Linked DNA regions of Homo sapiens: region 2 is linked to region 1. Evidence: fine-mapped expression QTL. A gene starts in region 1. The other region holds a variant in brackets. All regions are shown on one strand. Distances are from middle to middle.

Region 1 (12,475 bases):
TGGAGAGCAATGGCATGATCATAGCTCACTGCAGCCTCAAACTCCTGGGCTCAAGCAATCCTCCTGCCTCAGCCTTCTACATGGCTGGAACTACAGGCATGTGCCATCACATGTGCCTGGCTAGTTTTTTCCTATTTTGTAGAGACAGGGATCTTGCTATGTTGCCCAGGCTGATCTCAAACTCCTGGTCTCAAGCAATCCTCCCACCTCAATCTGCCCAAACTCTGGGATTACAGGTGTGAGCCACCACACCCAGCTGTCCTGATATTTAAAGGATGAGTTACTACTATTGTTCTTCAGGGTTCTATCACTCCCTCTTTGGGCTCTCAGCCCAGTTCTCAGTCCTAGATACCTATCACCATCTCATGGGAAGCATCTTTAAAGTAACAAGGTCTGGCCCTGCACCAGACCAAATGATACAGAATCCCTGTGGATGCCTCGATCCCCCATCCTCATTCTTTAAAAGCTCCCCAGGTGGTTTTTAAGTAGTGCCTATGTTGAAAATCACTGAACCAGGCAATCTCACCTACTTCTGATGACTTCACTTTCAATTCTAGCACAGACCCTCCATATATATCTCCATCTTTAGGGCCAACTGCTCTCTCAGGCGATTTCCTGGGCATCAAGATGTTATCATTGGCTTCCTCCTTTTCCCTCAAAATTTGTTTATTTTCCTGTATTTCCTACCTGGATGAACAGAACCACCATTACCCAGACACCCAAGCCTGAACTCAGTATGTCATCCTTGACCCTTCCTTCTCCCTCTCTCTCACCTATACACCTAACCAGTTCTCCTTACTCCACAAATTCACTCCCAAATCTAACCCCTTAGCCTCACTGGCCTCATTATCTTTCACCTACATTCCTATAATGACCACCTATTGGTCTTTGTGCACCTAGTCTTGCCCCTCTCTAACCTGTTCTCTACAATGCTACCAGAGATCAGAGTAATTTTTCTGAAAATACACCTGGGGCCAGGCGCAGTGACTCACACCCATAATCCCAACACTTTGGGAAGTCAAGGCAGAGGGTTACCTGAAGCCAGGAGTTCAAGACCAATCTGGGCAACATAGCAAGACTCCCATCTCTAGAAAAATAAATAAACATAATCAAAATATACCTGGTCACAATACTCATTCATGTTACCTGCCAGAGTAGGGGATGCAGACATGAATCAAAACCCATCCTGATTTCAAAGCCCTACCCTTAGAGTAGAGAAAGACATGTAAACAAGTAAATGACAGTAGAGATGAAGAGACATGGATTGCAGGCAGATGTGGGAATGCTTTACTGCAGAGATAACCAGAAGCCTGTATAATCTACAGGTGGCTAAGTGGGAAAACGCATTCCACGGAGAAAGAGAAACATAAAGCCATTTAGGCATGTTCAGGTAATAGAGGTGATTTTATATGGCTGAGGCAAAAGGCAAGGCATGCAGCAAGACACAAAGCCTGAGATGGGAACAAGCCAGACTTTGTAAGATCTGCCCAGGAAGAAATCCTTCAAAGGTTCCTCGCTATCATCAGGATTATGTGTTAGGACACACAAGGTCATTCATGAGCGGCTCCCATATACCTTCCCAGCCTCATTGCTCATTATGCCCATTCTCCAGCCTTTCCAAATTACCAGTTCTTTCCCAAAAGCACCAGGTTATCACACATTTTTCTTTTTTCTTTAATTTTGAGATGGAGTCTCACTCTGCTGCCCAGGCTGGAGTCAGCTCACTGTAACCTCTGCCTCCCAGGTTCAAGCGATTCTCCTGCCTCAGCCTCCTGAGTAGCTGGGATTACAGGCGCCCACCACCACGCCCGGCTAATTTTTGTATTTTTAGTAGAGATGGGGTTTCACCATGTGGCCGGGCTGGTCTTGATGGTCTTGATCCGTCTGCCTCAGTCTCCCAAAATGCTGGGATTACAGGCGTGAGCCACCGCGCCTAGCCTAAGACACACTTTTCCATATGTTACCTTCTCTTCCAAACTGCCCATCTCCCCTTACCTTTCCTTGTCTAGATTCAGCTCTTCTGAAAACTTAGTTTACTGAGCACTATGTACTTGGCAATTTGCTAGAAACTGGAGATACAATGAGATATGACACAACTCTTTCTCTTAAAGGGTTCACTCTCAAGTCAGTGAGAAAAATAAGAAAACAGAACATTATAAATAGTAAAAATGGGCTGGGCACAGTGGCTCACGCCTGTAATCCCAGCACTTTGGGAGGCTGAGGCAGGCAGACTGCTTGAGGTCAGGAGTTTGAGACCAGCCTGTCCAACATGATGAAACCCTGTCTCTACTAAAAATACAAAAATTAGCTGGGTGTGGTGGCAGGCGCCTGTAATCCCAGCTACTCGGAAGGCTGAGGTACGAGAATCACTCAAACCCTGGAGGCAGAGGTTGCAGCGAACTAAGATGTTACCACTGCACTCCAGCCTGGGCAACAGACCAAGACTGTGTCACAAAAAAAAAACTAAAAATGGTATAAGTGGTAAAAATGGAGATGGAAGTATGTACAGGGTGCTGTGGAAACACAAAGAAAAGTCACCTAACCCAAACTAAGGAGGAGGGGTAGTCAGAAAAAGTCCTAGGTGCCTGTAGACAGAAACTTGTCCTCACTCTCACCAGGGTGATGCTCCCAGAGCACCCTGTAGTCATCTCTGTCACAGTCTTGATTTTACGGTAGTGAATGGTCTGTTTCTTTACTGCTTTTTTCTCTGGATCACAAAGGGCCCAGGAAGGGGATGCGCCCATGCTACAGAAGGCTTGGAAGGACTGGCTCAACATGCTAAGGGTTTGGGAGCTGATGAGAATTTTTAAAGAAAACAAGCAGCATGATCAGATTGATAGTTCAGAAATGGAACCAATTCCAGCAGCAACGTGGAGGATTAAGTAGACTACAGGACCCAGAGGTTCAGAAAAAGCATAACCAAGGTCTGAACCAGTCTTCTGGCAATGAAGAGAGAGAAAAAAAAAAGATGTTATGAAGAGAGGAAAAAAAAAGATCTGAGGTAGCAACAACAATAGGATCTATGCTAGACTTAATGTGAGGAGAAAAGAAGATGATTTTAAGGTTTCTAGAGTAAAGATCTTAAAATAGTAATGTTTGTATATGTGCTTAAAGGGGGCTATGGGTGGAGAGAAAGGGAAGGAAAAGGTAACCACATTTGAAGTAATCAAGCATCCACATACAGCTATGCAGTAGGCAGATGAAAATTAGAACCTGAGGTTCAAGAGAAACGGGGACTAAATAGACGTCTTTGAAAACCATAAATATATAGGTGCTATTTGAAGCCATGAAAGGAAGTGTAATCACACAAGGAAATTAGAGAAAAGAACAAAAATGAAACCCTAAGGAATGCCACGTTAATCTGAGAAGAATAAAAAAAGAAAAGGGAAGCATCAAGAAAAGCTTTGTTTTGGTCTGAATGGTGGAAACCTGAGGATGTATACCATCCAACAGAAAAAATAATAATATGGGAAGAGATCAAAGACGTTAGCTTTCGAAAGTAAGACCCCTCTTCTTCTGAGATCAGAGGAAAGGATATTAGAAATCAGGTACAGACAGGCACAGACAAAAATGACCTCTCCTTAAGAGTTCAGGGCTGATGCCCACCAATTTATTCTGTGAAGTTAAGTGGCAAAATAAGCAATGAAGAGAAGGCAAGAGTAGGACAAAGAGTCAGAGAAAAATGGTAAAGATCCATAAACAGCCATTTAGATTTTAGGACATAAGAGGAATCTAGAGGTTAAGTCAAAGGATCTCCAGGATCCAGAAGTGCAGAAACAGCACCCAGCAGTTTAGTTATATGATTTTTGCCAGTCTGCCTTGGGAGCCCAGGAGCAGAAAAAGCTGACTGATTCGTCCAGGCTTGAGACCATCAGAGCAAAGGTGGCAAGAATAGTACAGGGCCAATGACAATGCTTTTATCATTTTAAAAAGTCAAACGTATTTTACTCTTTTTTAAAAATCGACTCGCTATTTCCTCCAAGAGCGAGTGTTTGGAGAGGGGGAGGGAGAGGGGTGGATAATTCCTCTCTCACTCTTAGAGGACTTGTCAGAAGTTTCATTCTTAAGCATATTTGGTCTGTACAGCAGCTGATTCCAGGAAATCCAAATCCTGATTCCTCCTGGATCTTAAAAGATGAAAATTCATTGCAGCTCCCTGGACTATCCAGCTAATAGATAAACACGTACCACATTGCTTATATACTATGCCACTTTAGCTGGGAGGTAGGGGCTCTTTCTTTCCTAAAAAGAAAGTTACCCAAACACTGCAGATGGGGATGGAGAGGGGATGGGGAGTAATTACACCGCAAAGCCTGCTGACTAGCAGCCTAAGAATCCTTTACAAAGGCAATTAACATAAAACAATACATGGCACGGATAGCAGAATTGTTTCTTCTTAATGAATGCAGTAATTGACCATTTAATCGCTTTACTGGAGTTCACCAATTTCTCCTGCCATCTCCCATACCATTCTTCAGGCAGAGTCAAATCCCTGTGGACACTGGACTTCTTGCTACCATCATCTGGAAAGTACAAAACGCCTGGAAGGAGGAAGAGGCTAACATGCGTGACCACCCACCATGTGCCAGGCCTACTGTGTGCTAGACTCTGGGCAAGGGACTTTACATGTTATGGGGTGCAGCTCATGTAAGGACGAATGAAGATATTACACTATGGATCTGAGCCAGGCGCAGTGGCTCACGCCTGTAATCCCAGCACTTTGGAGGCCGAGGCAGAAGGATAGCTTGAGGTCAGGAGTTCGAAGCCAGCCTGGGCAACATAGAGACTCCATCTCTCAAAAAAAAAAAAAAAAAAAGCGATGAATCCGGCATTGCAGAGAGTGGGAAAGTGTCTGGAGGTTTAAGAGTAAGAGAAGGAAGAGGAGATTGCGATGGTGGGTGGTCAAAGTGAGGGGAGAAGAGGCGAGTTGGGAAAGGAAGGTGCTTAGGAGCAAAAGGGCAAGACCCAGGGACACCTGGAGCGGGGCGGGCGACTGCCATGCAGACAGGACTACGTACAACGGGTAGGATGATGGGGCGATGAGCTCAAGAAGCGCAGCCGGGGTAGACGTGGGGGCAAATGTCCGATCCCGGCGAGACGAGGGTCTCATCCCAGGGGACTGCGGGGCTAGGACGTGGTCCCAGGGCTGCGAGAAGGGAGAGAAAGGGCAGAGGGGAGAGGCCCCGGCGGCCGGGGCGAAGCCGAGCCCGGGAAATGCCGGCGATGGGGGAAGGGGCGTGGGAGCAGGGGCCGGACGGGCCAGACCCGGGGCTCCGCGCTCGGGGGCGGGGTTGGACAACCGGGAGGCACCGAGCAGAAGGCGACAAGGGGCCAAGGGATGCCAGGACGGGGCACAGGGCCGGGTGTGAGGAGACGAGAGGGGAGCGGAGCCGCAGCGAGCGCCGCGTCCCCCTTACCTGGGATGAGTGAGGAGCCGCCGCGCCGCCTGGACGGCATCCTGGCCTCAGCCGCTGGTCCCACCGCCTTCGGTGGGGGGCCACTCGGGAGCCCGCCCTCACCGCCAAGCGCCGGCAGCTGCCAGCCTGGACCGGCCCCGCAGAGCAGCGCCGTTCCGACCCGCAACCGAAGCCGCCTCAGCAGCGTCTCCCGCGGTCGCCAACTCAGCGACAACCGCCAGGGTCCGGGGAGGTGGCGGGATCACACATCTGCTACGATTGGCTGAGCGGACGATGTGTCGGCTGCTCTGATTCGTGAGTTCCGGCCGGCTGCCCACCGAAGGAGGCGCGGCTGGGAATGGAGCTGGGTCCGGCAGGCGCCGAGGGGCGGGGGTCTGACGTCGCAGCCGGCCAGCGCCCCCACAGCCCTTCCCGTGCGCGCTCCCGAGGGGGCTTCCCGGCAGCCGCAGGCCTGGCCGGGTGGTTGCCCTAGCAACAGCGCGCGTGGCCTGGCTGCAGGGGAGCCGCGGGCAGGTGGCGGTCCTCACCGCCCCCACCCCCAACGTGGGTGTCCCAGAGGCCTTCATCAGTGAAACCCTAGGACAGGAGAAGAAAATGAGCTTTTCCTGATAATTCCTCTCCTCTGCTTCAGAGCCCACCTTTGCCCGCTGCTGGCAGAGAAGCTGTCATCTCCTCGGGGAGATAACGCGCAAATGCAAATAACGAACTCAAACACTATTTCATCCCCACGAGAGTGTAGACGTGCAATAGTCCCTCCCAACCACAGAGGTGGGGGGCTGACGCCCTAAAAGAAAGAAATGAAAACTAGGGAGAAAAAGGCAAAGAAGCAAAAGAAAGGTGGGGAAAGGGCAGATATTTCACAAAATGATCCATTCATTTTACAGTTTCTTCCTACAGACACATCTACACCAGGTTCTGTCAAAGCAATTATTTCTACTCCAGTGACATGGATTAGAGAAGGCATGAGTGCAGAATCTAACAGCTGTATTCAAAATTGCTCTCTGCTAGGCCAGGTGGGGTGGCTCATGCCTCTAATCACAGCACTTTGGGAAGCCAAAGCTGGTGAATCACCTGAGGTCAGGAGTTCGAGACCAGCCTGGCCAACATAGTGAAACCCCGTCCCTGCTAAAAATACAAAAATTAGCCGGGCATGGTGGCGGACGCCTGTCGTCCCAGCTACTGGGGAGGCTGTGGCAGGAGAATTGCTTGAACCCGGGAAGGTAACTACCTTCCTTTGCACACAGTATAATATTTTCAAAGTTCATCCATGTTGTAGCATGTATCGGCACTTCATTCCTTGTTACGGCCGAATAATAGTCCATTATACAGACATCACCTTTTTTTTTTTTGAAGAGTCTCACTCTGTCTCCCAGGCTGGAGTGGAGTTATGTGATCTTGGCTCACTGCAACCTCCACCTCCTGGGCTCAAGTGATTCTCATGCCTCCGCCTCCAAAGTAGCTAGAATTACATGCATGTGCCACCATGCCTGGCTAATTTTTATATTTTTAGTAGAGACGGGGTTTCATCAAGTTGCCCAGGCTGATCTTGAACTCCTGGCCTCAAGTGATCTGCCTGCCTTGGCCTCCCAAAGTGCTGGGATTACAGGCATGGGCCACCGTGCCTGGCTGGACATCATCTTTTATTTATCCATTAATCCATTGATGGACATCTGTTTCTACTTTTTTGGCTATTATACATGATGCTGCTATGAACATTTGTGTAGAAGTTTTTGTGTGTGGCCGGGTGCAGTGGCTCACGCCTGTAATCCCAGCAGTTTGAGAGGCCGAGGTGGGCGGATCACAAGGTCAGGAGATCGAGACCATCCTGGTTAACACGGTGAAACCCCGTCTCTACTAAAAATACAAAAATTTAGCCAGGCATGGTGGCTGGCGCCTGTAGTCCCAGCTACTCGGGAGGCAGAGGCAGGAGAATGGCGTGAACCCGGGAGGTGGAGGTTGCAGTGAGCCAAGATTGTGCCACTGCACTCCAGCCTGGGCAACAGAGTGAGACTCCGTCTCAAAAAAAAAAAAAAAAAGAAGTTTTTGTGTGGACCTCATTTGATCTTTACAGCAACTGTCTAAGGTACATATGATATCTCCTTCTACAGATAATCAGCTGACTGGGTGTGGTGGCTCACGCCTGTAATCCCAGCAGTTTGGGAAACCCAGGCAGGAGGGTCCCGTGAGCCCAGGAGTTCTAGGCTGCAGTGAGCCATGATGGCACCACTGCACTCCAGCCTGGGTGACAGACTGAGACCTTGCCTCTCACCCAAAAAAAAAAATAATAATTATATATATGTGTGTGTGTGTGTGTGTTTGTGTGTATATGTGTGTGTGTGTATATATGTGTGTGGGTGTATACACACACACACACAGAGATAGATAAGAAAACTGACTATAAGATGGTAGACAGCAATTTTGTTGTTTGTTTGTTTTTGTTTTGAGATGGAGTTTCGCTCTTGTTGCCCAGGCTGGAGTGCAATGGTATGTATGACCTTGGCTCACTACAACCTCCGCCTCCCGAGTTCAAGTGATTCTTCAGCCTCAGCCTCCCCAGTAGCTGGGATTACAGGCGCCTGCCACCATGCCCAGCTAATTTTTTTGTAGTTTTATTAGAGACAGGGTTTTGCCATGTTGGCCGGGCTGGTCTCAAACTCCTGACCTCAGATGATCTGCCCGGCTCCACCTTCCAAAGTGACGGGATTACAGGTGTGAGCCACCGCGCCCACCTTTTGTTTTGTTTTTAGAGACAGGGTCTCACTATGTTGCCCAAGCTAGTCTCGAACTTCTGACCTCAAGCGATCCTCTAACCAGTCTTTTAATGTTAAGCAAGGGCCAAGTTACATTCTGCTTTCTACATTTCAGACCTCTTCAGGAAAAGGACTCACCATGGCCTCAGTAATACGGAAGCCACCACCGGTGCACAGCCCCTGCCAGGCTCTTTCCACAAAGTAGAGATGGAGATCTGAGATAACCTCCCACACTGCCCAGAAAATCCTTCCCCCACCTATAAGACCTAGAAAAAGAATTGAGTAGCCACATAGGGAGCTGACACTGGTCCTCCTAGCACGTATTAAACTGTGAGAACGAATTCTAGATGTGGGGAATTCAGTAAGAAGAAAGGACACGATCCTTTCAGTGAAACCTGTCATACGGCAGGATGTCTCACTGAGCAGGACAGCTTCAGGTGATCCGGGGACTACACTCTGAGGCAGAAGTAAGAAGCAGGGTCCAGCCTCTGACAGGGTCCAGCCTCTGAGGCAGAAGTAAGAAACAGCTTGATCTGAAGCAAAGCTCAGGGTTATTGAGAACAAGATGAACTTTTCCTGCTTTCTAAATCTGCCCCAACACATATAGTATATGTGCTAGAAGGAAAAAAAACTCCAAAATATACTCAAGTGAAAAGAACAAAGTTCAAAACAGTGTGTATAATATACCCATTTGTATATATTTAAAATACACATACACACACACTTGTTATTTTCAGAGGAAATATCAAGAAAGATGCACACATTAAATTGGTAACAGTGTTGTCTCTGGGAGGGAAACTGAAGGACTTGGGCACAGGAATAGGAAAGAGACTAATTCTTTGCTATGTACTCTTGGGCACCTTTAAAAATTATGTGCTATATGCTTGGATTACCTTTTTTTTTTTTTTTTCTTATTTTAATAGGCAGGGTCCCATTCTGTCACCCAGGCTGGAGTACAGTGGCATAGTCATAGCTCACTGCAGCCTCAAACGCCTGGGCTCAAGTGATCCTCCCACCTCAGCCTCCTGAGTAGCTAAGACTACGGGTGCACGCCACCCACTCCCTGCTAATTTTTTTTTTTTTAGACAGAGTCTCGCTCTGTTGCCCAGGCTGGTGTGCAGTGGCATGATATCGGCTGACTGCAACCTCTGCCTCCCAGGTTCAAGCAATTCTCCTGCATCAGCCTCTCGAGTAGCTGGGATTACAGGTGCCCACCACCACGCCCAGCTAATTTTTGTATTTTTAGTAGAGACAGGGTTTCACCATGTTGGCCAGGCTGGTCTCGAACTCCTGGCCTCATGTGATCTGCCCACCTTGGCCTCCCAAAGTGCTGGGATTTCAGGTGTAAGCCACCGTGCCCAGCCTTTTACTTTTTTTTTTTTTTTTTTTTTGGTAGAGATGGGATCTTGCTATGTTGCCCAAACTGGTCTTGAACTCCTGGGCTCAAGCAGTCCTCCAACGCTGGCCTCCCAAAGTGGTGGGATTATAGGCATGAGCCATCACGCCTGGCCTGGATTACCTATTTACAAGGAATGAATACATAACTTTTTTTTAAAGGAAAACTTGTTCCTGAAAAACTGTCCAAGACTGTATGCACATCTGATTCACACCACATTTCTATTCCTCTGTGTAATTTAATGAGCCTCATAGATTCTGAACACTCTTTCTGCGTTTCTATTTTCTCTCCCGGGCTTTACCTTTCCAGGTGATCAGCCCAGAATTAGATCACCTCACCAGAGAGCATCAGCCAGGTATGGTGGCTCACACCTGTAATGCCAGCACTTTGGGAGTCTGAGGAGGGCAGATCACTTGAGATCAGTAGTTCGAGACCAGCCTGGTCAACATGGTAAAACCCAATCTCTACTAAAAACACAAAAATTAGCCAGGTGTGGTGGGGGCACACCTGTAATCCCAGCAACTCGGGAGGCTGAGGCAGGAGAATCGCTTGAACTCAGGATGTGGAGGCTGCGGTGAGCGGAGACTGTGCAACTGCACTCCAGCCTGAGCGACAGCGCAAATCTCTGTCTCAAAAAAATTAAAAAAAGATAACCTCGGTCGGGCGCGGTGGCTCACGCCTGCAATCCCAGCACTTTGGGAGGCCGAAGCGGATGGATCATGAGGTCAGGAGATCAAGACCACCCTGGCTAACACGGTGAAACCCCGTCTCTACTAAAAATACAAAAAAATTAGCCGGGTGTGCTGGCGGGCGCCTGTAGTTCCAGCTACCCGGGAGGCTGAGGCAGGAGAATGGCGTGAATCCCGGAGGCGGAGCTTGCAGTGAGCCGAGATTGCGCCACTGCACTCCAGCCTGGGTGACAGAGCGAAACTCCATCTCAAAAAAAAAAAAAAAAAGATAACTTCACCTGTGTATAGATGGCTTTGCCCCATCTTCAGGCAATTCAAAGGGCTCACAGCCTGTTTTCTTCCAAACAGCCTACGCAACCCTGGCAGAGCCCAGAAGAGGAGAAAATGGGCCAGTGCTTGCTGCCATCCCAGTGAGAGCTGCGAGTCTCTCTCCTCTAGGTCAGCCTTTGCACCGCTTCTACCTTGGGAACTCACCTCTAGAGAAGACCTGGCCAAGGATGAGTGAGGACTCCTTACTACAGCAACCTCACCTCCTGGAGGGAAAGTCTATGCAACATACCTAGGAATGTGCAGGCTTTGAGAACTGAAAAGGCAGCATTGTCCTCCAGCACTTTTCCTTTGGGGGTTGTTGGATTGCTTTGCTCTTAAGAAGGACACAGGCCCCGCGCAGTGGCTCATGCCTGTAATCCCAGCACTTTGGGAGGCCGAAGCGGGCAGATCACGAGGTGAGGAGATCAAGACCATCCTGGCCAGCATGGTGAAACCTCTGGCCAGCATGGTGAAACCTCCTCTCTAAAAATACAACAATTAGCCGGGCATGGTGCCGCGCGGCGGTAGTCCCAGTAACTCAGGAGGCTGAGGCAGTCAGATTCCTTGAACCCAGGAGGCAGAGGCTGCAGTGAACCGAGATAGTGCCCCTGCACTCCAGCCTGGGCGACAGAGCGAGACTCTGTCTCAGAAAAAAAAAAAAGGGACACAAATGCAGCAAAGCTCTCTTCATGGCATTTTCATTCTCGGGTCTGGCACGGAGGGAAGATGGTGGCAGAGGTGGGAAATGGCAGAGATGGGGAGTCCCTCAGAAATGAAAAATTTGAGGCCAGGTGCAGTGGCTCACGACTGTAATCCCAGAATTTCAAGAAGCGAGGCGATCAGATCACTTGAGGTCAGAAGTTCGAGACCAGCCTGGCCAACATGGTGAAACCCCATCTCTACTAAAAATACAAAAATTAGCTGGGTGTGGTGGTGGGCACCTGTAATCCCAGCTACTCGGGAGGCTGAGGCAGGAGAATCACTTGAACCCAGGAGGTGGCGGTTGCAGTGAGCTGAGATTGCACCACTGCACTCCAGCCTGGGAGACAGAGCAAGATTCCATCTCAAAAAAAAAAAAAAAAAAGAAGGAGATGAATGTGTCTGTCACAACCAGCAGCAACTGGCCTGGCACTGGATGGATGTTTGGATGGACGGATGGACAGGTAATGAATGGCTAGATGAACAGCAAACACTGCAATTGTCAAAGAAGGCCAGCAGGGCACGGGAGCCAGGAGCCGGGACCCAGGGAGAACAGGAGGACACTTGGGTCACTCAGGGTCCTGCCAGGAAAGGCCAGGGAGACTCCAGGAGAGGACTCCAGAGCCAAAGATCTTTGACGGAGAACTGAGAGTTAAGCTTTCACTCCACCTAAAGTGACCTAAAAGCCCTGGCTAATTTGGGATGAGATGAAACACTTACCTGCATACAGCATCAGAGAGTCAATGGCCTGCGGGAAGCACCTCACAGTTCTCTTGAAGCTTCTGGGATACAGGGATTTAAGGCAGAAAGAAAAGGGTGATACAATTTAAAGAAAAAGAAAAATGTGAGCAGGACTCCTGACTTTCTCCACCCCTAGATCCTGGAAAACTGGGCAGGTCAGGCCCCTCAGCCACATCATCATTTGAAAATGAAAATTCAGCCCAGCCTATGAGCAGGCATTTTCCAAGTGGCTACAGAATTCCTGCACCTTCCAAAAATACCTCTTCATGCAACTCCTGCCAGGGAGAGAGGGCCACATGCCCAGGCTGGAGCCGACCAACTGGGCTTCCTGAACCCGGGAGCTGCCACCATGTGCTCTGCAGACCCCAGATTCAGGAAATGTCCACTGCTCCATAGGGAAACCCAGACAGACAGCTGTGCTGTGTTCCAGGCTGAGAGCAAAGCATCCTCTAGTTTTACTTATGACCAAGGAGA
Region 2 (12,475 bases), 340 kb before region 1:
GCAGCTAAATGAAGTTTAATTAAAGAATGAGCGCTGGGGCCCTTTTTATTGGGTACTGCATCTACTTCGACCACAAAAGACGAAGTGACCCCAACTTCAAGAACAGGCTTTGAGATGGAAGAAAGAAACAGAAGCTTGCCAAGGAGAGAGCTGGGCTTTCCAAGTTACCTGACCTTAAAGATGCTGAAGCTGTTCAGAAGTTCTTCCTTGAAGAAATACAGCTTGGTGAAGAGTTACTAGCTCAAGGTGAATATGAGAAGGGCGTAGACCATCTGACAAACGGAATTGCTGTGTGTGGACAGCCACAGCAGTTACTGCAGGCCTTACAGCAAACTCTTCCACCACTAGTGTTCCAGATGCTTTTGACTAAGCTCCCAACAATTAGAGAATTCTAAGTGCTCAGAGCTTGGCTGAAGATGATGTGGAATGAGAAACAAATGTTAACATAATAAAATCTCAGTTAAAAATATTTAAAAAATTCTTGGTAGTTGAGCAGCTCTGGGGGAATAAGGGCAAATATCCTTGTTATGAACTACACTGAAATCTACCAAAGTTAATGTTTACTTTGTGTAGGTCCATTTGTCTATTTTATTTATTTTTCCCAGTGAAAAGTGTATTTTGATAGAGAACTTTTCATTTTATAAATACACTATGAGTTACTGAAAATTCATATCATGGATTTCATTTATTCCTGAAACATAGTTAAAATGTACATATGACATGGCTTATGTTAAAAATACCCAGTGCTCAGTTTTGAAAGATAGGCACAAAAAAAAAAAAAAGTATAGGAGAAACTGAAGAATGTACACCTTTTTAGCTGGCACATTTTGCTGTAAATCCGGAAATTTGATAGACTTGATTGTGTTTGTGAAAACTGAGCATTAAAGGTTTTTTAATTGATCATTTCTTTAAAAAAAAAAAAAAAGAATGCTTTTTTTTGGAGACGGAGTCTAGCTCTGTCACCCAGGCTGTAGTGCAGTGGCGGGATCTCGGCAGGAGTCAGCAGGTGTTTTGCGGTTGCTGAATTTCCTTGAGGTGAAGATGTAAGACTTTGAGCAGCACATCCTGATTGGATGGGTTACTGCATGGAAACCTCGCCCAGCCCGATAAAGAAGGGCTTTTTTTGTCTTTTTTGAGACACGGTCTCACTCTGTCACCCATGCTGGGGTGCAGTGGTGTGGTCTTGGCTCACTGCAGCCTCCATCTCCCAAGCTCAAGCGATCCTCCTGCCTCAGCCTCCTGAGTAGCTGGGACTACAGGTGCACACCACCCTGCCTGGCTAATTTTTTGTAGAGACGGAGTCTATGTTGCCCAGTCTGGTCTTGAACTCCTGGGCTCAAAGAATTCTCCTGCTTCAGCCTCCCAAAGTGCTGGGATTACAGGCGTGAGCCACTGCACTCAGCCCACCAGAAGGGTCTTAATGACACAGAGTAAGGGCAGGCTCGGTCCACGGGGCAAATGTCTCTTCAATTGGTGGAGAAAAGTCAGAAACTAGGTGTCTGTGATGTGGCATAGAGACCCTGGGAAAGAGAAGACCCTGGAGGCAGGAGGAGCCCAGGCTATGAGTCAGAGGGATTTTTGTGGGATATTCAACATGAAAAAGAAGTCAGATGCTGCCCCACCCTCTGTCTCAGACTGGTCCATGGGCTGTGGCCATCCTTGAGTCACCATGAGAGATGGCCATATTGGAGGGAGTGGTGGATGTGGGTGACAGTGCCCACCCTCTGGGCATCTGTCCCAAATCTTCCTGAGGCATTTATGTGGCCTTCTGTGTCTCTGCCATGTTTTTTGTTTTTTGTTTGCTCTTTTTTTTTTTTTTTTTTTTTTGAGACAGAGCCTGGCTTTGTTCCCCAGGCTGGAGTAGAGTAGCATGATCTCGGCTCATTGCAACCTCCACTTCCTGGGTTCAACTGATTCTCCTGCCTCAGCCTCCTGAGTGGCTGAGATTACAGGCGCCCACTACCAACCCCGGCTAATCTTTTTTTTTTGGATTTTAGTAGAGACGGGGCTTCACCATGTTGGCCAGGCTGGTCTCGAACTCCTGACCTCAGGTGATCCACCCACCTCCCTGCCTCAGCCTCCCAAAGCGTTGGGATTACAGGCGTGAGCCACCGCGCCCGGCCTGTCTCTGCCTTTGACCTGAGAGCAAACCAGGTCGCCTCCAGATCTGTATGTTCAGTGCCAGGCCTGACCCTTGTAACTGGCTCTTTTTTTTTGGGAAACAGTGTCTCACCCGGTTGCCCAGGCTGGAGCACAGTGGCGCAATCATAGCTCACTGCAGCCTCCACCTGCCGGCCTCAAGCACTCCTCCTGCCTCATCCTCTTGAGTAGCTGGGACAATAGGTACGCGCCACCACGCCTGACTAATTTTTAATTTTTTTGCAGAGACGGGGGCAGTCTCACTACATGGCCCAGGTTTGTGATCAGCTCTTGGTGGAAGGAGGTGGCTTCTAGCTGGGCTATGCCACCCCAGGCTGTGGAGTTCCAGGTGAACCTGGTCCTGACAGGAGTCAGGGCCTAGGGTCTCAGGCCAGGTTGTGGCGTGGCCTTGCTGAATCCTATCACTGTCCCTGCTGAGCAGCCATACTGGGCCCTGTGGTGGTTCAGATGGATGGTCCTGACAGCACGGTCTGCACAGCGTCTGACTCACTTTGTGGCCTGGGCAAGTCCCTGGCATCTCTGCACCTCAGCTTCCCAGCTGTACAATGAGGTGGGGTAAGATTAGATCAATATTTTTTCTTTCTTCTTCTTTTTTATTTCTTAGGAGATGGGGTCTCAGCCAGGCACAGTGGCTCCCACCTGTAATCCCAGCACTTTGGGATGCTGGGGTGGGAGGATCACTTGAGGTCAGGAGTTTGAGACCAGCCTGGCCAACATGGTGAAACCTCGCCTCTACTAAAAATACAAAGAATTAGCTGGGTGTGGTGGTGCATGCCTGAAGTCTCAGCTACTCGGGAGGCTAAGGCATGAGAATCGCTTGAACTCAGGAGGTGGAGGTTGCAGTAAGTCAAGATTGCAAGATTGACTCCAGCCTGAGCGACAGAGCGAGTCTCTGTCTTGGGAAAAAAAAAGAAGGCCGGGAGCAGTGGCTCACACCTGTAATCTCAGCACTTTGGGGAGCCAGGGTGGGTGGATCATGAGGTCAGGAGTTCGAGACCAGCCTGGCCAACATGGGGAAACCCTGTCTCTACTAAAAATAGAAAAAACAGCTGGGCGTGGTGGCAGGTGCATGTAATCCCAGCTGCTTGGGAAGCTGAGGCAGGAGAATCAGTTGAACCCAGGAGGCAGAGGTTGCAGTGAGCCGAGATCGTGCCACTGCACTCCAGCCTGGGCAACAGAGCGAGACTCTGTCTTGGGGGGAAAAAAAAGAAGAGATGAGGTCTCATTCTGTCATCCAGGCAGGAGTACAGTGGCATAATCATAGCTCACTGCAGCCGTAAACTCTGGGGCTCAGGTGATCCTCCGGCCTCAGCCTCCTGTGTAGCTGGGACTACAAGTGCCTACTACCACGCCTGGCTAATTTTTAGAAAAAACTTTTTGGTCTATGGCCATACCACCCTGAATGCGCCTGATCTTGCCTGATCTCAGAAGGGAAGCAGGGTTGGGCCTGGTTAGTAGTTGGATGGGAGAAAAAACTTTTTGTAGAGACACGGTCTCATTATGTTGCCCAGGTTTGTCTCAAACTCCGGGACTCAAGCAATCCTCCCACTTAGGCCTCCCAAACTGCTGGGATTAGAGACGTGAGCCACCACACCTGGCCAATCAGTGTTTCTTTTTCTTTTTCTTTTTGAGACAGAGTCCTGCTCTGTCATCCAGCTTGGAGTGCAGTGGTGTGATCTCGACTCACTGCAACCTCTGCCTCCTGGGCTGAAGCCATCCTCCCACCTCAAACGCCCAAGTAGCTAGGACTACAGGCGTGCGCCACCATGCCGGCTAATTTTTCTTTTTCTTTTTTTTTTTTTTTTTTTGAGACAGAGTCTTGTTCTGTTTCCCAGGCTGGAGTGCAGTGGTACAGTCTTGGCTCACTGCAACCTCTGCCTCCCAAGTTCAAGTGATCCTCCTGTCTCAGCCCGCCTAGTAGCTGGGATTACAGGCATGCATCACCATGCCTGGCTAATTTTTGTATTTTCAGTAGAGATGGGGTTTTGCCATGTTGACCAGGCTGGTCTCCAACTCCTGACCTCAGGTGATCCGCCCACCTTGGCCTCCCAAAGTGCTGGGATTACATGGGTGAGCCACCGTGCCTGGCCCTAATTTTTCTATTTTTAGTTGAGACAGGGTTTCACCATGTTGGTCAGTCTGGGCTCGAACTCCTGTTCTCAAGTGATCTGCCTGCCTTGGCCTCCCAAAGTGCTGGGATACAGTGTTTCTTAATCGGGTGCACATCATAGTCACCCGTGAGTAATTTCTCCCAAGTCCTATCATACACCTTAATCGGAACCATCATGCCAGGTGGCCCCCAGGTGCCTGGTGAAAGGTTCTGTATACCCTGCAGATGCCAGCAGAACGGAGGGGGTCCAGCCAGTCTCTGGCAGTGCCCGCCTGCCTCACCCCTGTCAGTCACATGCTACCCCTCTGCTACCCAGGAGGCCCCCATGATCCTCCCTGAGGCCCAGCCTGCCTCTTGTCCTTCTAGCTGACCTCATACACTCATTGGTGCTATGGCAGGGCCTTCCCTCTGTAGGGCACCTGCAGGTTTCGGGGGGCCTCTTGGGGATACCTGTCCTTGTTCATGGAGACCTCAGGCTCCCTGGGGAGGCACCAGGGTGGAGAGGGGCTATATTTTTTTCAAGGTGGTAAGCCATCTATTGCATGCCCACCTGGACCACATCTATCTCTGCCTTTAAAAAATTTATTAAAATTTTTTTTTTAGAGACAGGGTCTTGCTCTGTTGCTCAGGCTGGAGTGCAGTGGTACAATCATAGCTCACTGCAGCCTCCAACTCCTGGTGTCTCTGTCTTTTTCATTTTTTTTTTGAGATGGAGTCTTGCTCTGTCTCCCAGGCTGGAGTGCAGGGGTGTGATCTCAGTTCACTGCAACCTCCGCCTTCCGGGTTCAGCAATTCTCCTGCCTCAGTCCCCCAAGTAGCTGGGATTGCAGGTGCCCACAACCACGCCCAGCTAATTGTTGTATTTTTAGTAGAGATAGGGTTTCACCATGTTGCTCAGGCTGGTCTTGAACTCCTGACCTTAAGTGATCTGCTTGCCTCCCAAAGTGCTGGGATTATAGGCGTGAGCCACTGCACCCGGCTCTACCTTTTTTTCAAAAGGAACAGTCTAGTCCCCACAGGGCAGAAGGGTGGCTTCCTTGCCTCCGACTCACCTGGCACCTTGGCATCATTGCAGATTTCTGCAAAGGGTCTGAAAAAGAAAGAAAAGAGGTGGCAGTTAGAAAATGAGGTTTTCCCCTCCTTTTTTTTTTTTTTTTTTTTTTTTTTGAGATGGAGTCTCGCTTGGTCACCCAGGCCGAAGTGCAGTGGCACAATTTTGGCTGACGGCAGCCTCCACCTCCTGGGTTCACACCATTCTCCTGCCTCAGCCTCCTGAGTAGCTGGGACTACAGGTGCCCGCCACCACGCCCAGCTAAGTTTTATATTTTTAGTAGATACGGGGTTTCGCCGTGTTGGCCAGGCTGGTCTTGAACTCCTGACCTCAGGTGATCTGCCTGCCTCCGCCTCCCAAAGTGCTGGGATTACAGGCATGAGCCATTGCGTTTGGCCGTTTTCCCCTCCTTCTCACCTGCCCTCTGAGATGTGGTGCTGCTGCTGCTGCAGGAGCCTGGTAACACCGAAATAAAAATGGGGAACACACCGTCCCGACAGAGCATTCCCCATATAGGCCCTGGACGATGGACCTGGGCTGGCAAATCATTCCTCCAGGTCTGCTGTCCTCATCTATAAAGCGAGGATATTGTCTGACCAAGGGATCAGAAACGTGTGCCCAGATTTATGCAAGTGGATAGTCATCACAGCATTATTATCAATTACTATTTTTGAGACAGTCTTACTCTTTTGCCCAGGCTGGAGTTCAGTGGTGCCATCCTAGCTCACGGCAGCCTCAAAGTTCTGGGCTCAATCAGTCCTTCTGCCTCAGCTTCCCAGTAGTTGGGAATGCAGGTGCACACCACCATGCCCGTCTAATTTATTTTTTAATTAATTAATTTTTTTTTTTTTTGAGATGGAGTCTTGCTCTGTTGCCCAGGCTGTTGTGCTATGGCATGGTCTCAGCTCACTGCAACCTCCACCTCCCAGGTTCAAGCGATTGTCCTGCCTTAGCCTCCTGAGTAGCTGGGATTACAGGCGTGAGCCACCACACCTGGCCGTTTTCCTGCATTTTCTAGTTGTTACTTCGGGGGGGTGAACTATCTGTGGGAGAAAGGGAAACCTCCACTTTTTGATTTTGAACAATTTGGGTTTTTTTGACACATGCAAATATTATCTTAATTTAAAAAAACATGCAGGTCAGCACAGTGGCTCATGTTTGTAATCC[C/G]AGCACTTTGGGAGGCCAAGGCAGGCGGATCACTTAAGGTCAGGAGTTCGAGACCAGCCTGGCCAACATGGTGAAACCCTGTCTCTACAAAAATACACAAATTAGCCGGGTGTGGGGGCAGGCACATGTGATCCCAGCTATTTGGGAGGCTGAGGCACAAGAATCACTTGAATGCCGGAGGAAGAGGTTGCAGTGAGCCAAGATGGTGCCACTGCACTCCAGTCTGGGTGATAGAGCAAGACCTCATCTCAAAAAAACAAAGAAACAATACATGTAATATAACATTGAAGGCGGGCTGGGCGCAGTGGCTCAAGCTTGTAATCCCAGCACTTTGGGAGGCTGAGGCAGACAGATCACCTGATGTTGGGAGTTCGAGACCAGCCTGACCAACGTGGAGAAACCCCGTCTCTTAAAAATACAAAATTAGCTTGGGTGGTGGCGCATGCTTGTAATCCCAGCTACTCAGGAGGCTGAGGCAGGAGAATTGCTTGAACCTGGGAGGTAGAGGTTGCAGTGAGCCAAGATCGTGCCTTTGCACTCCAGCCTGGGCAACTAAAGCAAACTCCATCTTAAAAAAAAAAAAAAGAAAGGCCGATGTGGGAGGATGGCTTGAGCCCAGGAGTTTGAGACTAACCTGTGCAATAAAAAAAAAAAAAAAAACAAACGTCTGGGCGTGGTGACTCATGCCTGTAATCCCAGCACTTTGGGAGGCCGAGGCGGGTGGATCACCTGAGGTCAGGAGTTCGAGACCAGCCTGACCAATATGGTGAAACCCCGTCTCTACTAAAAATATTTTAAAAAAATTGGCCACGCGTGGTGGCATGTACCTGTAGTCCCAGCTACTCAGGATGCTGAGACAGGAGAATTCTTGAACCTGGGAGGTGGAGGTTGCAGTGAGCTGAGATCACGCCACTGTACTCCAGCCTGTGCGACAGAATGAGACTCCATCTCAAAAATAAAGTAATAATATATTAATAAAATAATAATTTAAAAATATAAAGAAATGCATCAAAGTGTTGACTTTCAGTAGGAGACTTACAGCTATCTTCTTTTCTTCTATCTTTTCATATTTTCCAGGTTGTTTTGTGTATTGTTCTGAAAATAAGCGAATCATCTATTGTATTAAAAAAAAAAAAAAGACTGGGCCACACAGTTTGGGTGTGGTGGCTCACGACTGTAACCCCAGCACTTTGGGAAGCCAAGGTGGGAGGATCACTTGAGCTTAAGAGTTTAAGACCAGCCTGGGCAACACAGTGAGACCCTGTTGAGGCTGCAGTGGGTCAGGATCATACCTCTGTACTCCTGCCTGGGCAACAGAGTGATACCCTGTCTCAAAACAAAAACCAAAACCCAAAAGACTGTAAGGATATATGGTATAGTAGTAATAACGGAGGCTGGGTGCAGTGGCTCACACCTGTAATCCCAGCACTTTGGGAGGCTGAGGCAGGCAGATCACTTCAGGTCAGGAGCTCGAGACCAGCCTGGCCAACATGGTGAAACTCCATCTCTACCAAAAAATACAAAAATTAGCCAGGGTGGTGGTGCACACCTGTAATCCCAGCTACTTGGGAGGCTGAGGCATGAGAATGGGTTGAAGCCAGGAGGTGAAGGTTGCAGTGAGCTGAGATCGTGCCACTGCACTCCAGCCTCGGTGACAGAGCAAGACCCTGTCTCAAAAAAAAAGAAAAAAAGGTAATCACTGAGACTATGGAATTATAATTATTTTAAAAAATATAATAAATATTCATATTTATATTTAAACATTGATATTTAAATACAAACGTATTTATATTTAAATGTTAAAAATCAGAATTGTATAGTCAGAAACAGTCAAATTTAATTAAAACATGTTTTTGTTTCTTCCCCAGAGAACAAATATAATATCTAAAAAAAAAAAAATCTTTAAAAATAAGTAAATGTCCATAAGTGTTGAAGTTGTATGTTTCAGGAGAAAGAGGCAGGAACTATTGTAGTACACCTGGGTCTGGATCCCAGCTGACCCACCATGACCTTGACTTTCACCCTCCCCATGGTCTTGCCCTCTCTGTTCCCCGTTCCAGAGGCTGGGCACTCACTGCAGCTGGCTAATGATGACCATGTGGACATGCTTTCGGGCCTTCAGGATCTTCTCCAGCCAGTGGATGTCGTACGTGTTGGGGTTCCGGAAAGGGATGTCAGGTGGTGGCTCACACCTGCGATCCCAGCACTTTGGGAGGCCAAGGCGGGTGGATCGCTTGAGCCCAGAAGATCAAGACCAGTCTGGGCAACATGGTGAAACCTCGTCTCTACTAAAAATAGAAAAATTAGCCGGGAGTGGTGGCGCACGCTTGTAGTCCCAGCTACTTGAGAGGCTGGGGCAGGAGGATTGCCTAAGCCCATGAGGTGGAGGCTGCAGTGAGCAGACATTGCACCACTGTACTCCAGCCTGGGCAACAGAGTGAGACGCTGTTTAAAAAAAAAAAAAGAAAATCAACATACACAAAATGTGGGTCATGGGCAGAGCAGCCATGTCCCCAGGGAGCAGGCAGGCCAGCTGGGGGCTCCTGAAGGCTAGGCTGGCTGCAGAGGGAGGGAGGGCCTCCCCCTTTCCCCGGGAGGAGGGCTTGGTGTGCTGACCCTGACCACAGACACTGACTGTATTTCTCGTTGAAGAGTTCCTTCACCTGCTCCTGCAGGATCACCTCCCCAAGTCTGTTGGTATCATCTTCATCTAAAGAGGAAGACAAGGGGGCCTGAGAGTTGGCACTGGCTTGGCCACCAGACCTGCTGCTTCTCCCACCAGGCATCCCTGACCTGCCAAAACATTCTCTGCAGGCCCTGCCTACTCCCATGCAGCTGTTTGTTTGTTTAGTTACGTATTTATTTTATTTAATTAATTAATTAATTTATTTTTTGAGACAGAGTCTCGCTCTGTTGCCCATGCTGGAGTGCAGAGGCGCGATCTCAGCTTACTGCAACCTCCACCTCCCAGGTTCAAGTGATTCTCCTGCGTCAGCCCCCCAAGTAGCTGGAATCACAGGCACCGCACCACCATGCCTAGCTAATTTTTGTATTTTTTAGTAGAGACGGGTTTTCATCATGTTGCTCAGGCTGGTCTCAAACTCTTGGGCTCAGGTGATCCACCCGCCTTGGCCTCCCAAAGTGTTGGGATTACAGGCGTGAGCCACTGTGCCTGGCTGTAGCTGGTTTCTAGCCCCAGTTGTTGGTCTGTCCATCCATCCATTTTTCTTTCTTTGAGACATGGTTTTGCTCTGTCACCCAGGCTGGAAGGCAGCGGTGCAATCAGATAGTTCACGGCAGCCTCCAAATACCAGGCTCAAGTGATCCATACTGCCTCAGCCTCCTGAGTGGTTGGGAATACAGATGTGTGCCACCATACCTAATTTTTTAAATTTTTGGTAGAGATGGAGTCTCACTATGTTGCCCAGGCTGATCTTGAACTCCTGGCCTCAAGCGATCCTCGTCTTGGCCTCCCAAAGTTCGGGAATTACAGGTGTGAGCCACGGTGGCCAGCCCATCCGACATTTTCTTATCAGTGTCCCCAGCATAGGCCCTGTGTTGGGCACAAAACAACCTAAAGAGGCAGGGCTGCTCCCCTGAGGGTCTCCCAGCCAGAGGGGGTGTCACCTGGTCACCAAAGTACAACAGACACACTTAGGAGACAAGGGGCATGAATGAGGATGCCCATCCTGTCTGGGCAAGTCTGGGGAGACCTCCCCCAGGAGAGCAGGATGCTTGAATGGGCTCTCAAGGCCTGACATTGGTGGCTCATGCCTATAATCCCAGCACTTTGGGAGGCAGAGGCAGGCAGATCACTTGAGGCCAAGGGTTCAAAACCAGCCTGGCCAACATGGTGAAACCCCGTCTCTACTAAAAATACAAAAAGATTAGCTGGGCGTGGTGGCAGGCACCTGTAGTCCCAGCTACTCGGGAGGGTGAGGCAGGAGAATCGCCTGAGCCTGGGAGGTGGAGGTTGCAGTGAGCAGAGATCATGTCACTGCACTGCAGCCTGGGAGACAGAGACCTGTCTCAAATAAAAATGAAAACAACAACAAAAAAAATGGGCTCTGAAAAGGCAGGTAGGAGTTTGTGAAGGATGGAGTGGCAGTGTGAAGACACCGGGGCAGAAGGACCAGCCATGCACAGGCACTCAAGGGTGAAAGATCCTATGCTGGCCAGGTGTGGCGGCTCACGCCTGTAATCCCAGCACTGTGGGAGGCTGAGACGGGCAGATCACCCTGGCCAACATGGCAAAACCCCATCTCTACTAAAAATACAGCAATTAGCCGAGTGTGGTGGCGGGCACCTGTAATCCCAACTACTCAAGAGGTTGAGACAGGAGAACTGCTTGAACCCGGAAGGCAGAGGTTGCAGTGAGCCGAAATCACGCCATTACACTCCAGCCTGGGTGACGAGCGAAACTCCGTCTCCAAAAAACAAAAAAAAGAAAAGAAAAAAAAAGAAAGATCCCTTGTCCTGGAAGTGGCTGAACTTGGGGGTGGTACAGGGGAGACAACTGATGGGCCTAGCGGGGTCCGTGCACAGGGGCCGGTGTCACTGTGCTGGGCTGTTGGAAATCCCCTGACTGCTCGCTGGCCAAGGTCTGTGAATGGGAAACAGACTGTGTCTGGGAGTGTGGGGGCTATGCATTCTCCCTGCTCACTGCCCTGGCAACTGTCACGGCTTATCTGCTGCTTGAGCCCCGGCGTGCTCCGCTCTCCCCTCCCTGTAGCCTAGAGTTGCTGCTGGGGTCAGTTAGCCCTGGAGACGGGGCCTGAGCTGGGCTGTAAGGCTGAGGGGTGGTTGGGCTGGAGATGGGGTCTGGGGCAGAGCTCTGCAGCAGCCTGTGGGTTTGTGCCAGGGTTGAGGATGGGGCTGGGATTGCAGGAAGGCTGGTTTGCATGTCCAACAGGAAATCTCTCTGAGAAGCATGGGTTCACATGGGCTGGGCCTCTGGGGCAGGCAGGTTGGGTAAGGGTGAGATGTTGAGGGGGGTGAAGCTAGAAGCAGGCAGGGAGCTAGGGCCGGATGAGGCAGGGCAGAGCAGACTGATGAGTCGTTGGAACAAAATGACTCCTTTTTTTTTTCTCTTTGTTTTTCCAAGACACAGTCTCACTCTGTTGCCCAGTCTGGAGTGCAGTGGCGCAGTCTCGGTTCACTGCAACCTCTGCCTCTCAGGTTCAAGCCATTCTCGTGCATCAGCCTCCTGAGAGCTGGGACTACAGGCGCCTGCCACCACATCCGGTTAATTTTTGTATTTTTAGTAGAGATGGGGTTTTGCCATGTTGGCCAGGCTGGTCTTGAACTCCTGAGCTCAGGTGATCTGCCCACCTCGGCCTCCCAAAGTTCTGGGATTACAGGCGTGAGCCATGGTGCCCAGCCTGGCTCCTGTTTTTTGAGACAGGGTTTCACCCTGTTTCCCAGGTTGGAGTATAGTGGTGCCGTCATGACTTACTGCAGCCTTGAACTCTTTGGCTCAAGCAGTCCTCCCCACTCAGCCTCTCTAGTAGCTGGGGCTCCAGGCATGAATCACCGTGCCAGACTAAGTTTTTTTAAAATTTTTTGTAGAGAGAATCTCTCTCTGTTGCACAGGCTATTCTTGAACTCCTAGGCTCAAGTGATCCTCCTGCTTCAGCCTCCGAAAGTGCTGGGATTACAGTTGTGAGTCACTGTGCCTGGCTCTTTTAATCTTGAAAACTCTGGGAAGAGCTCACTTCTGTTTAGGAGGCTGCCTTGGGAACTGCATCTCCTGGGCTGGTGCTCTGTGCTGCTTGGAGTCTGCAGACCCTATCTGGGTCGCTTGGCCTCCCGTGCACAAGCTGCCAGAATGGAGGCCCCATTCTCAATGTGGGGGCTGCCCAAAGAGCAGGGAGCTTCCCACAGGACAGAGGCTGGGCACCTGCTTGGCCTGGTTCTTCCTTTTCCCAGGGCTCCAACACCCACCCCCTCAGGTCCTCCCAAACCCTGCAGGTCCCTGGCCTGGTCCG

What was found. PIP is the estimated chance that this variant, and not a neighbour inherited with it, causes the effect. A credible set is the group of variants that fine-mapping cannot tell apart.
Region 2: its variant is the best candidate, but not a certain one, in a credible set for the expression of TPST1 in whole blood (TOPMed, PIP 0.69).

Annotation. Positions count from the first base shown.
Region 1 is chr7:66,198,465-66,210,939 of GRCh38, reverse strand. TPST1 (tyrosylprotein sulfotransferase 1) reads right to left here and starts at 5,606. Exons shown (of 6, transcript NM_003596.4): 1 at 5,418-5,606. RefSeq lists silencers at 5,204-5,563, 5,714-5,983.
Region 2 is chr7:66,541,760-66,554,234 of GRCh38, reverse strand. It overlaps the pseudogene LOC100420547 and the pseudogene RABGEF1P1. Among named protein-coding and RNA genes, the nearest start is that of LINC03011, 54 kb to the right of the region's middle. The variant C/G (reference allele first, on the strand shown) is at 6,489.